Linked DNA regions of Homo sapiens. The protein of the gene in region 3 purifies or fractionates together with the protein of the main gene of each other region. This does not show direct contact. Each region holds a gene or a part of one and is shown on either strand. Other genes may lie near its edges.

The links.
Region 1: the proteins of SLC16A9 (region 3) and MRS2 purify together in Homo sapiens (affinity purification with mass spectrometry; one large-scale study listed by BioGRID and IntAct). This does not show direct contact.
Region 2: the proteins of SLC16A9 (region 3) and CHCHD3 purify together in Homo sapiens (affinity purification with mass spectrometry; one large-scale study listed by BioGRID and IntAct). This does not show direct contact.

Annotation. Positions count from the first base shown.
Region 1 is NC_000006.12:24,416,285-24,419,940, reverse strand, and holds part of MRS2 (magnesium transporter MRS2 homolog, mitochondrial isoform b precursor), read right to left. Parts: intron 3,545-3,656; coding exon 3,428-3,544; intron 1,858-3,427; coding exon 1,705-1,857; intron 1,481-1,704; coding exon 1,363-1,480; intron 1-1,362. UniProt on the Homo sapiens protein: Magnesium transporter that mediates the influx of magnesium into the mitochondrial matrix and regulates magnesium metabolism. Also permeable to calcium, sodium and potassium ions.
Region 2 is NC_000007.14:133,071,986-133,075,641, reverse strand, and holds part of CHCHD3 (MICOS complex subunit MIC19), read left to right. Parts: intron 1-3,656. UniProt on the Homo sapiens protein: Component of the MICOS complex, a large protein complex of the mitochondrial inner membrane that plays crucial roles in the maintenance of crista junctions, inner membrane architecture, and formation of contact sites to the outer membrane.
Region 3 is NC_000010.11:59,654,351-59,658,006, forward strand, and holds part of SLC16A9 (monocarboxylate transporter 9), read right to left. Parts: intron 240-3,656; coding exon 1-239.

The DNA.
Region 1 (3,656 bases), on a different chromosome or scaffold from region 3:
CCAGCATCACACTGTGCCAGATGCACATCCAGGTTCAGTTCTAGAAAACTTACAATAAGCTATTCTGTGAAAACACAGTCAGTGGGTTCTGTATCTGCAGATATGCAAGGTTGACTGTACTGGGTCATTTTATATCAGAGACTTGAATACCCACAGACTTTGGTATCTGTGGGGATCCTGTAACCAATTCTTCTTGGATACTGAGGGATGACTGTACAAAACCACAGTGAAATGAAAAACTCTGGGAGTTAAGTATTATCTTAATACAGAAAGGCAACAGAGCAGTAGAAAGTGCAAGTCTTTGGGGTCATGTCCTAATTCTGTTATTTTTCCAGCTCTATGCCTGTGGGCAAGTTAAATGTTCTGAGCCTCAGTCTTCTCATCTACAAAGTAGGGATAATATATCTATTTTCAGAGTTGCAATGATTGAGCCAAATAAAGTATGCAAACCGCCTGGTACGTTGCCAGACATGTAAGAATTAAAAAATAAAAACTCTTCATTAACACTGCTTCACAGAGACACTGTTTTATCACACCTTTCCCATCTGTAATTATATGTTTTGGGAAACAAAGTAACCTAGGCTGTATTTATCTAGGTTATAACATGGTCCAACAGTACTGCCTGAATTGTGAGTTACATTATATATTTTATTTCACCATGGTAGTTTACAGGTTAGACTTTTTATTTATTTATTTTTTGAGACAGAGTCTCACTCTGTCCTGTCGCCCAGGCTGGAGTGCAGTGGTGTGATCCTGGCTCACTGCAAGCTCCGCCTCCCAGGTTCATGCCATTCTCCTGCCTCAGCCTCCGGAGTAGCTGGGACTACAGGCGTCTGCCACCACGCCCGGCTAATTTTTTGTATTTTTAGTAGAGACAGGGTTTCACCGGGTTAGCCAGGATGGCCTCGATCTCCTGACCTCGTGATCTACCTGCCTCAGCCTCCCAAAGTGCTGGGATTACAGGCGTTGAGCCAAGGTGCCCAGCCTTTATTTTTTAAATCCATTAAAAATATCGATCTTCAAAACCCAATCTTTTTTTTTGGAGACAGAGTCTCACTCTGTCTCCCAGGCTGGAGTGCAACGGCGCGATCTCAGCTCACTGCAACCTCCGCCTCCCGGGTTCAAGTGATTCTCCTGCCTCAGCCTCCCAAGTAGCTGGGATTACAGGTGCCTGCCACCGTGCCTGTCTAATTTTTGTATTTTTAGTAGAGACAGGGTTTCGCCATGTTGGCCAGGTTGGTCTCAAACTCCTGACCTCAGGTGATCCACCTGCCTCAGCCTCCTAAAGTGCTAGGATTACTGACATGAGCCACCATGCCCGGCCAAAACCCCCAAGTTTTAGAAATAATAATACATTCTCACCTCTTCAAGGGAAGATTCCAAATTCATTCCAAAAGCAACTCCCATTAGTCCAAAGAGCGAAAGAGAGAAGGTTCCCATGGTCAGCTGTAGATTCAACCTCATCATCACGTTTCGGTGGCTGGAGAGGAGAACACCTATTCAGATTAGAAGGGCCCACTAACTATATACAGCACATTCATCAAATCTATACAGACCACATGGATGAAACCTACACAACAAAAAAAATAATAATAATGTAGTATAGATGATAATGATGGCGTAATTCCTCACAAAATATTTCCTTAAAAACTTTCTTATAATTATTTTATTAAAAAAACTTAGTTTTATATAATGCTTTCTTACCTGTCCAGATTAATGAAAATAATACTTTGTGAATCATCAATCAGCACCCTAAGCTCACGAGCTGCATTGGAGAGATCGTCAGCCAATCGGTAGTAGTTTTCCAACAGCAACTCCATCTCTTCTGCATGGTCAATCCCAGCACTGCTCTTTTCACTTCAATTAAAAGAGAAAATAATTAACATACTCCCAACATGTGTATCATATACTTAGTGACAAAAACTTCCTAAATTAGTATATAGCATTCAGCTACCAGTGGAAAAGCTAGCCTTTGTCTTGTCTTGTCTTTTTTTTTTTTTGAGATGGAGTTTCACTCTGCTCCCAGGCTGGAGTGTAGTGGCGCGATCTCGGCTCACTGCAACCTCTGCCTCCCAGGTTCAAGCTGTTCTCCTGCTTCAGCCTCCCCAGTAGCTGGGACTACAGGTGCCCGCCACCACGCCCAGCTAATTTTTGTATTTTTAGTAGAGATGGGGTTTCACCATATTGGACAGGCTGGTCTCGAACTCCTGACCTTGTGATCTGCCTGCCTCGGCTTCCCAAAGTGCTGGGATTACAGGCATGAGCCACAGCGCCTGGCTGCCTTTGTCTTTTCTATTGTTGTGGCCAATCTGTGAGTACCTATGTCAACTGATCCAAAACACTTTACAGATGAGTTGAGGACAGAGGTTCCATCCTTATGTAGACCAGTTGGTGTCACTGTATTACATGGCCCCAATCCAAGAGATTTTTATGCAGATACATGCTGCCAGTTACAGGAAAATCCAGATATGTGAATGCAGATGAATTAGTGCAAAGCCAATACCACTATCAGGTAAAACAAAATCCACAACTAAAAATGTCAAGACCATTTCCTTTTGAGGTGTGTACATAATGTGATTTCATATAAAGAAAATGTTTTTGAATGATATCAGTAATAACTTTGCTCCCCTACCCTACCAAGAAGGGTAAGGGGGAATGAAGTACTCTGAAGAGGTACCTGTATCATAAAGCATATTAGAGACAGATTGACAGATTGGCCTAAGCAAAGCAAACAGTTTCTGCTACCATACCTATCGGCTATCTACCAAATGTTATATAGCCCCCTTTATCTTATTATTTCCTTATCAGGATATAAATAACCAATTTTTCAAAGTGCTGTAAGAAAATCTGTACAGACTGTGGAAACTAAACTCATTACAAAGGTGTATTAATTTCTGATACTGCTCTAGAAAGACAATAACAAAATATTTGGGTATTTAAAAGTAAACATTTAGCTGGAGTGTGCACAAGAAGCATAAACAATTTCTAAATTCATAAAAGATAAAAGGTTTATAAGATTAACATTTTCATTAGACTGAACTTACATAATCCATGTTAATGTGTTACTCGTGTATTTACCCCATCTTTTCCCTCCCCCATGTAAATTTCTCTCCCACTCTGCTTCCTAGGTAAGTTATTTTGGTAGATGTATATGCCAATCTGGTGGTCAGTCCCTTGAATATAAAGGTAACTGTGTGTTTATATTCACCACATGTCAGCAGTGTTGGGTATGCAGTATGCATACTCATAGAATTACATTGAATTAGATACGATACTGCACAGGAAAAAAGGGAAACTGGGGATGAAAAATCTCTATATTCTGTAGTCCAGAAAAATGTTACATTCTGTATGAAAAATCACCTTGAAGTGGAAAAGGCAAAAGATTTACTCTAAGGAAATAAATAACAAAGTATAATTATATACTTACAAGACTTGTGGGTCACTCCATTTTGATACACAGAGCTCTTCTAGCAACTCTTCCTCATCCAAGATCTCCAAAATTGACTCTTTGAAAATTTTAATATCTGTTTCTAACTCTGATAGACTATAAGAAATAGATACACAAAAATGATCAATAGAATAAACTTATAAGAACATTTCATAATAGTGTTTTTAGAGTATCTTATCAAATATATTATCTTATACATTCATGCTAA
Region 2 (3,656 bases), on a different chromosome or scaffold from region 3:
TCTAAAGCTTGTCAGCTGCTTCACGAGTGAGTACCCCTGTTCACAGAGGAGATCAGGTGAGTGTGCAGGTCTGAACTTACTACTGCAATGGGAAGGTCAGCTCAGAGAGCATTAACTTTGGATACAGATGATAACACAACAAAACTATTACCTCATATCTACGTCGCTATGAGCAGACTGGGAATAGGGTAATAGTGCTTGGAGTTGGCAGAGGTGCAACAGTAGATGGCCATGGGTGCTGCTTTGGAAGGGCCTAAGGATACAGTTGTTGAATGATTGTAAGAACAAGAGAAAGGTGGAGTCTCAATAAGGCAGCCGTACAATATGTTTATCAAGCCTTCAATAGGTTTAGTATATACTCCTTTGGTGCATGCTTACAAGTTTACTGAACTATAACCAAACATCCCACTGGGAAATGTTTTGAATTGATGTGAGAATTTGACATTAAGTAGCAACTTGGGACATCAGAGAGGCCTCAAAAAGAAAAAAAAGTTAACAAGAAATTAGTGATTAGGTTGAAAGAGACATTCTACTCCTACTACCTAGAGAGCATAGATAGAGAAAAATAAGCACCTTCTATACCCATACCAGGACTTAGGCAGCTGCTGCTTGCAATAGCTGCAGGCCTGGTCCTCATGCACCTTACAGAGAACGAGTCAGTACAAGCTCAGACCCAGTTGATAAAAATGAACCAAAATGAATTAAAAAGTCCCTGTGGTTGGAGCTATATGGGTAATAGCTTTACCAAATATTTGTGTAGCCAATTGTAGTTTATGGTGCAAAACACTAAAATCCCTCCACAGAATCTCTGGGGTAAACATTATTTTCATTTTTTTCAGATGAAAATAGTAACTTTTCAGATGAAAGCTTATAGCTAACACTTGATTTTTGAGATTTATATATATTATATATCAGTTAAAATAGCTTTAAGATTCTAAAAATGTAAGCTTATTTTTTCCTCTTTAAGAGGAAGTGATATTTTTATTACATGCATGGGATTGAAGGGGTGTGTTATTAAAAGTAGAGCATTGGACTAGAGATTGGGGAATTACTGCTTCTGGTCTTGATGCTGCCAGTAACTGAATATTACTCAGGGTCTCTTTTTTTTCTCAAGTATAAATTGAGTCAGTCTTACGGGGATTTTTCTAGGATGTGTCTCAGTTTCTCAGTTTCTCAGATGGGTTTCAGCAACATTCCCAGTGGCTGTCAGTTGTTAGAAGGATGCAGCTGGCTCTGGCATTTTCAAATAGAAAGTCTTCTTGTCTTCCAAGAAGGGAGTCGTAGTTTTTTCCTTCAAAGAGCACACACAGCATTTGATCTGTAGCCTTTCCCTTTTCCATCTTATTTCCATTCTGGTTTGGGCCCTGAGATACAAGTAACAGTTGAGGTATAGACTATTTAGTTCACTGATGTATCACAGGGCCTTGATTAGTGCCTGGCCTGGGAGACATTTGTTGAATGAATGACTTAATATATAGGAGCTTGCAATCTAGTGGAAAGGCAGAAAGGTGAATGTGGAAAGGCTAATTCCTGTTCTTTCATTGAGACTGTATTGGAAGTTTGAGAAAGGAACAGCAGGCACAAGGAATGGTAGCTTTAGGTAGGCAGGGTTGGAATGGAGTGGACAACTGTTTTGGTCAGTGAAGGCTTGGATGTTTAGACTGCGTCTTGAAAGGTGACTCCCTCCCAATGGTACAGGAGAGAGGGCAATGTAGGCGTGTGTAAAGGCAAGGAGATGGACGTAGAACAGGATATGTAATATTAAGGAAAAAAACTGTAGAATTTGAGGTTGGAGAGTTAGGCCATCACCAAATGATGAAGTCTTGAATGCTGTACAAAGAATTTGAATTTTTCTGTAAACAGACAGTAGCTATTGAAGAATTTGAAGTAGGGAGTTACCATTATCACATTTGCATTTTAAGCGGATGGTACAGGAATTAGGGCAGGAGAAATGGGATGAGAGAAGAGAGGAATTCATTAAATATTTAGGGATTGATGAAGTCAGAGCTAAGAATGAGAGAGAAAGAAGAGTTAAGAACAAGCCCTATGTTTGAATTTAGGAAGCTGGGTGTTGGTGGTGTCATTAATGAGGTAAGGAAGGCAGGAGAAAGAGGAGATATGCGGCAAACGTGAGATCAATTTTGGACACTTTGGGTGTGAGGTGCTTCTGGTTTGCCAGAAGGAAGGTGTTCATTAGGCACTTCAGTGTGGAGACCGGGCTTCTGAGAGATAGGTCTTAAGCTCGAGTGAATGCATTTATTAATGGAATTTATTAGTTTATCAACAACAGTTAGAAATCAAGAGATTGGATGAGAGTGCCAGTACAAGGGCACATAGAATGAGAAGGGCCCTTCAGCATTGAAGTGCAGGCAGGAGAGGGGAAGCTGCAAAAGAGATAAAATGTGGCCAGAGTCCTAGGAGAACCAGGACAGCAGGATGTCAGAAAAGCCAAGGGAGGGCTTTCCAGAAGACGGGAGTGGCCAGAGGTGTTAGATGCTAAAGGGAAGCCATATAAATAAGGCATTTTATAAATATAAAATATTTATTTACATAAATATCAAAAGTTATTTATTTGGTCATTGGTGACTTCTACCAGAGAATGTTCACTGTTGCACTGAGGGTAAAAGCCAGAGAGTGGTGAGTTCAGGAAGTGGAAATGGGAAGGAGACCCTTGATACAGGAGGAGGATCACTCAGTTACTTGAAATGGAAATCCTGGGGTCTTCCTTGATGACTTCTGCTTTACTCCCACATCTACTCAGATACTGGGTAGTGATGCTGAGGGATGTTTGAGTGGGATCTTTTTTTTTTTTTTTTGAGACGGAGTCTCACTCTGTTGCCCAGGCTGTGGCGCGATCTCACTGCAAGCTCTGCCTCCCGGGTTCACGCCATTCTCCTGCCTCAGCCTCCTGAGTAGCTGGGACTACAGGCGCCCGCCACCACGCCCAGCTAATTTTTTGTATTTTTAGTAGAGATGGGGTTTCACCATGTTAGCCAGGATGGTCTCGATCTCCTGACCTCGTGATCCGCCCACCTCGGCCTCCTAAAGTGCAGGGATTACAGATGCGAGCCACCATGCCTGGCCTTGAGTGGGATCTTGAGACTCAGACTTTTTGGGTTTGAATCCTTCCTCTGCTACTGATAAAGTATCTGATCCAGGGCCAGTTATTTAATCCGGCTATGCTTCAGTTTTTTCACCTATAAAATAGAGATACAAAAGTATCTATCTCATAGGCCTGTGAAGGAGTAAATAAGTGAAGTGCCTAGCTTAGTGTAGCGCCTGGCACATAATAAGCACTCAGTGAATGTTAGTATTTTAAATCCTAAATACCTTTTAAGTGTGTTCTCCCCTGGATTACCATAATAGCTTTTTTTTTTTAAAGTTTATTAAAGTAAATTGTTGTAGAGTAATTTACATGCCATGAAATTCATCCATTTTAAGTTTACATTCCAACACTTTTTTTTTTTTTTTCTAGATAGGGTCTTGCTCTGTTGCCCAAGCTGGAGCACAGTGGCATGATCATGGCTCATTGCAGCCTTGACCTCCTGGGCTCAAGTGATCCTCCCTCCTCAGCCTCCCGAGTAGCAATTCAACACTTGATGAATTTACTGAGTTGTGCAAACATCACTACAATGCAATTTTAGAATATTTTTATC
Region 3 (3,656 bases):
TATGTTTTCTTCCAGATTCTTTCCTTTTTCATTGTAAATGGAGTATTTATCTGGTAGATCTTCTGGAGCTATTTTTTTAGGCAAAGGACAATCAGAAGATTGGAGGGGTCTCATCAGACTGCCACAGGCTAATATATTTAAAGCTAAAGCACCCACAATCAGCAAGCATCCATCCAGTCCATAGAACTCAACCAGCATCCTCTGCAGAGCAGCATATATGAAAAGGCCAACGCTTGAACCTAAAAAGGGAATGGGAACTGTTCAACCTCGTAATCTGAGGCTCTCAGGATTAGAATTTGTAATATCACAATTCAATTTATTTTTTATACTGGCATTTATATGTAACTTCATATTAAAATCATATTAAGAAGATAGAAGATAACAATAATAACAATAATATAGTAATACTGATAGAACATTTAAGAATTAGAATTTGCAGCTCAGACACTGTTAAGCACTTTACATTGCACGATCATGTTTAATGCTTTTACTGATCCCATTGAGTAGGTCCTATTATTATTCCCAATCTAGAGATGAAGTGACCTAGGGCTGGAATGGTTGAGAAATTTGCCATAGATCAAAAATCTGTAAAGAACATAAATAGGATTCACACTCAGTCAGTTTGAACCCAATAGCCCATATTCTTAACAAGTATCATCGGCTGGGTGTGGTGGCTCAGGCCTGTAATCCCAGCACTTTGGGAGGCTGAGGTGGGTGGATCACGAGGTCAGGAGTTCGAGACCATCCTGGCCAACATGGTGAAACCCCGTCTCTACTAAAAATACAAAAATTAGCTGGGCATGGTGACACACGCCTGTAGTCCCAGCTACTTGGGAGGCTGAGGCAGAAGAGTCGCTTGAACCCAGGAGGTAGAGGTTGCAGTGAGCCAAGATTGCACCACTGCACTCCAGCCTGGTGACAGAGTGAGACTCCGTCTCAAACAAGCAAACAAACAAACAAAAAAACCCAAAAACCAAGTATCATCATGAAACTATTTTCTTTGCACTTATTATGTGCCAGGCTCCATGCTACATATTTATTCCAGAAAAGTAAATTTTCATATTTTACTTTTTAAAAATAGTATATTGCAGTTTAAGGATATTTATAATGGCTTGATAGTTCAAATCCATTGCTGAATCACCGGAATGAGTGAGTCATCCTTTTCATGCATTAATACAATTATGAGAAAAGTAGAATTTTTTTAGGGTATTTAAATTACAAAGTATGCTGGTTTATACATCTATGTAACACTGTGAATAATTCACCTTTTTAGCACTGATCACACTAAACACAGAGGGTTGCCAAGTTATGGTAGCCTAATCAATTGGTACTGTTCTCATCTGGTTCTGATTTCAATCTTTAATAAACTGAGCATTTTTAAATGTAAATGTCATTGGGAAATGTCATGTGAAAAATCAGGAAAAAAATAGTCTGAAAAGGTTGATCATATGTTTAAAATGGTCAGTATTAAATTACATTATAATCTCATCAGGATGCCAATAGGACCAAGCTCAGAGGCATCACTGATTGCATGGATATGATTGCTATAAAAACCCATCTAATAAAACAATTCTTCCAAATAGCCAAATGGCTCTGCCTTAGAGTTGTAAGAAAATATTTTCTTTGGGACCTCAGTTGTCCCTTCTTAACATTTTTTAAAGTTAACCCCTTCATTCCCAAAAGGAAAAAAAACTTTGCATGCAAATATTAATGTTTCATGTTAATGTAATGGCAACTAAAATAGTATCTTTTGGGACTGCTAAGAGAGTATCTCTTTGCTAACTACTGAGAAGTAATAACAGTAGACAAATGTAACCCTTTCCTTCTCTCATTAAACGTGGCATATACTGTAAAAGTTAAAAACGCTACAGAAAACACACTGACAGAATTAAAAACAGCAGGGTGACCTCATGTACTGCATTAGTACCCATTAACTATAAATTTGTGATTTTTGCCTATTTCTTTGTACAGATTCTAACAAAGTGTCACATCATTAGATACTTAAAAATGCTCTTGGTGTTTTGAAAGTTCTATATTTTCACACAGAACAAATAAATAAACAACTTTCCTATTCTTGCCAACCAAGTTTATCTGTCAACATGATGAAAATCAATTCAACAGATATTTATTGAACACATAAGATAGCAGAGAATGGGGAATATCAAATTACACATTGGAGGCTAGTTTCCTCAGCCTTCATCCCACAAGAACATGTCTGTGGTTTAGAAAGATACAGGATTTTTTTCCCCCAGGGTATTGAAAAGTAATTTAGAGTTTCCTGGTGGAATTTTGTAAACTGCAAAACTGTGATTGTTAAAAATTTTAAGTTCCAGGATACATGTGCAGGACGTGCAGTTTTGTTACATAGGTAAATATAGCCATGGTGGTTTGCTGCACCTATCAACCCATTACCTAGGAATTAAGCCCTGCGTGCAATAGCTAAAACTGTAATTTTTAATCTTCAAAAAGAGCATCCTAATTTTAAAATAATCATTGTAAAGGGTTAAGTGAAATAAAGCACTAATTATGCTTCCATGCATGTTATACATTATTACAAAGAGAGAAAATATTAAATGGCGTTCAGGGAACACGAAGCAGTGAGAAATACAGCCATGCTTTAACTCATTAATACTAGGGGTCAATAACTTCCCGAAAGGATCAGAGAGTAAATATTTAAGGCATAGAGGGTGTACAATCTCTGTCCCAAATACTCAACTCTGCCCTTGAAGCATGAAACCAGCTAGAGATAATCCATAAAAAAATGAGCATGGCTGTGTTATAATAAAATTTTATTTATGCACGCTGAAATGTAAATTGCACATAATTTTCACGTATTATGAATATTCTTCTTTTGATTTTTTTCATTCATTTAAAAATGTAAAAACCAATTGTAGCTTGTTAATCATACACAAACCAGCAGTAGGCCAGATTTGGCCCATAGGCATTTGTGGACCAACCCCTGTTCACTACAGAGGAAGATCGCTTCCCCCAAACCTTCATTTCATGCCCACATTCCTTTCTTTCAACTAGGTCACAATATTTCAAGTGTTTTGATGCGGGGTTTCTTTTTAATTTTTAAAAAACTCTGCTGTGACTTTTGTTTAGCTTATCATATCTTTGACTGAAGGTGGGTTCATACTTCTCCCTAATTTCCCTTCACCTAGCTCCCTGTGAGTTGAAACTGAAAACTCCTTTAAATCTTGACTGCCCATAGTTGCTTCATTTTTTATTTAGTGTGCTATGGACCAGGCCCCTATGCCCTCCTCTCAAGACTGAGTGAAAAGCAAGATCATCTGTCACAGCATGCAACTCCCAACACCTTCAACACAAATACATTTGGACATTAGGGAAACCTAGGTCAGAATTATAACTGCTAACACTTGAGAGCCCCTGTCATGTGCCTTACACATACATCCCTTTCATATGTCCAATAACCCAATGTGATGGGTACTATTTGTAAATCAAAAATAAAATTCTAAGCCACCCAGCCAGCTGATGGACCCTCCCCTTGGCCAAGGGTATTCTGAAGTAAACCTGAAAAACTAGTTCAGGCCGTGATAAGGTCAGGGGGATGGGGGCTGGATATGCCTCATTATACTCTCCCCTCTTTGGAATTCAAACACAGCTGACCAGTATTAACATTAAAACAGGCACCT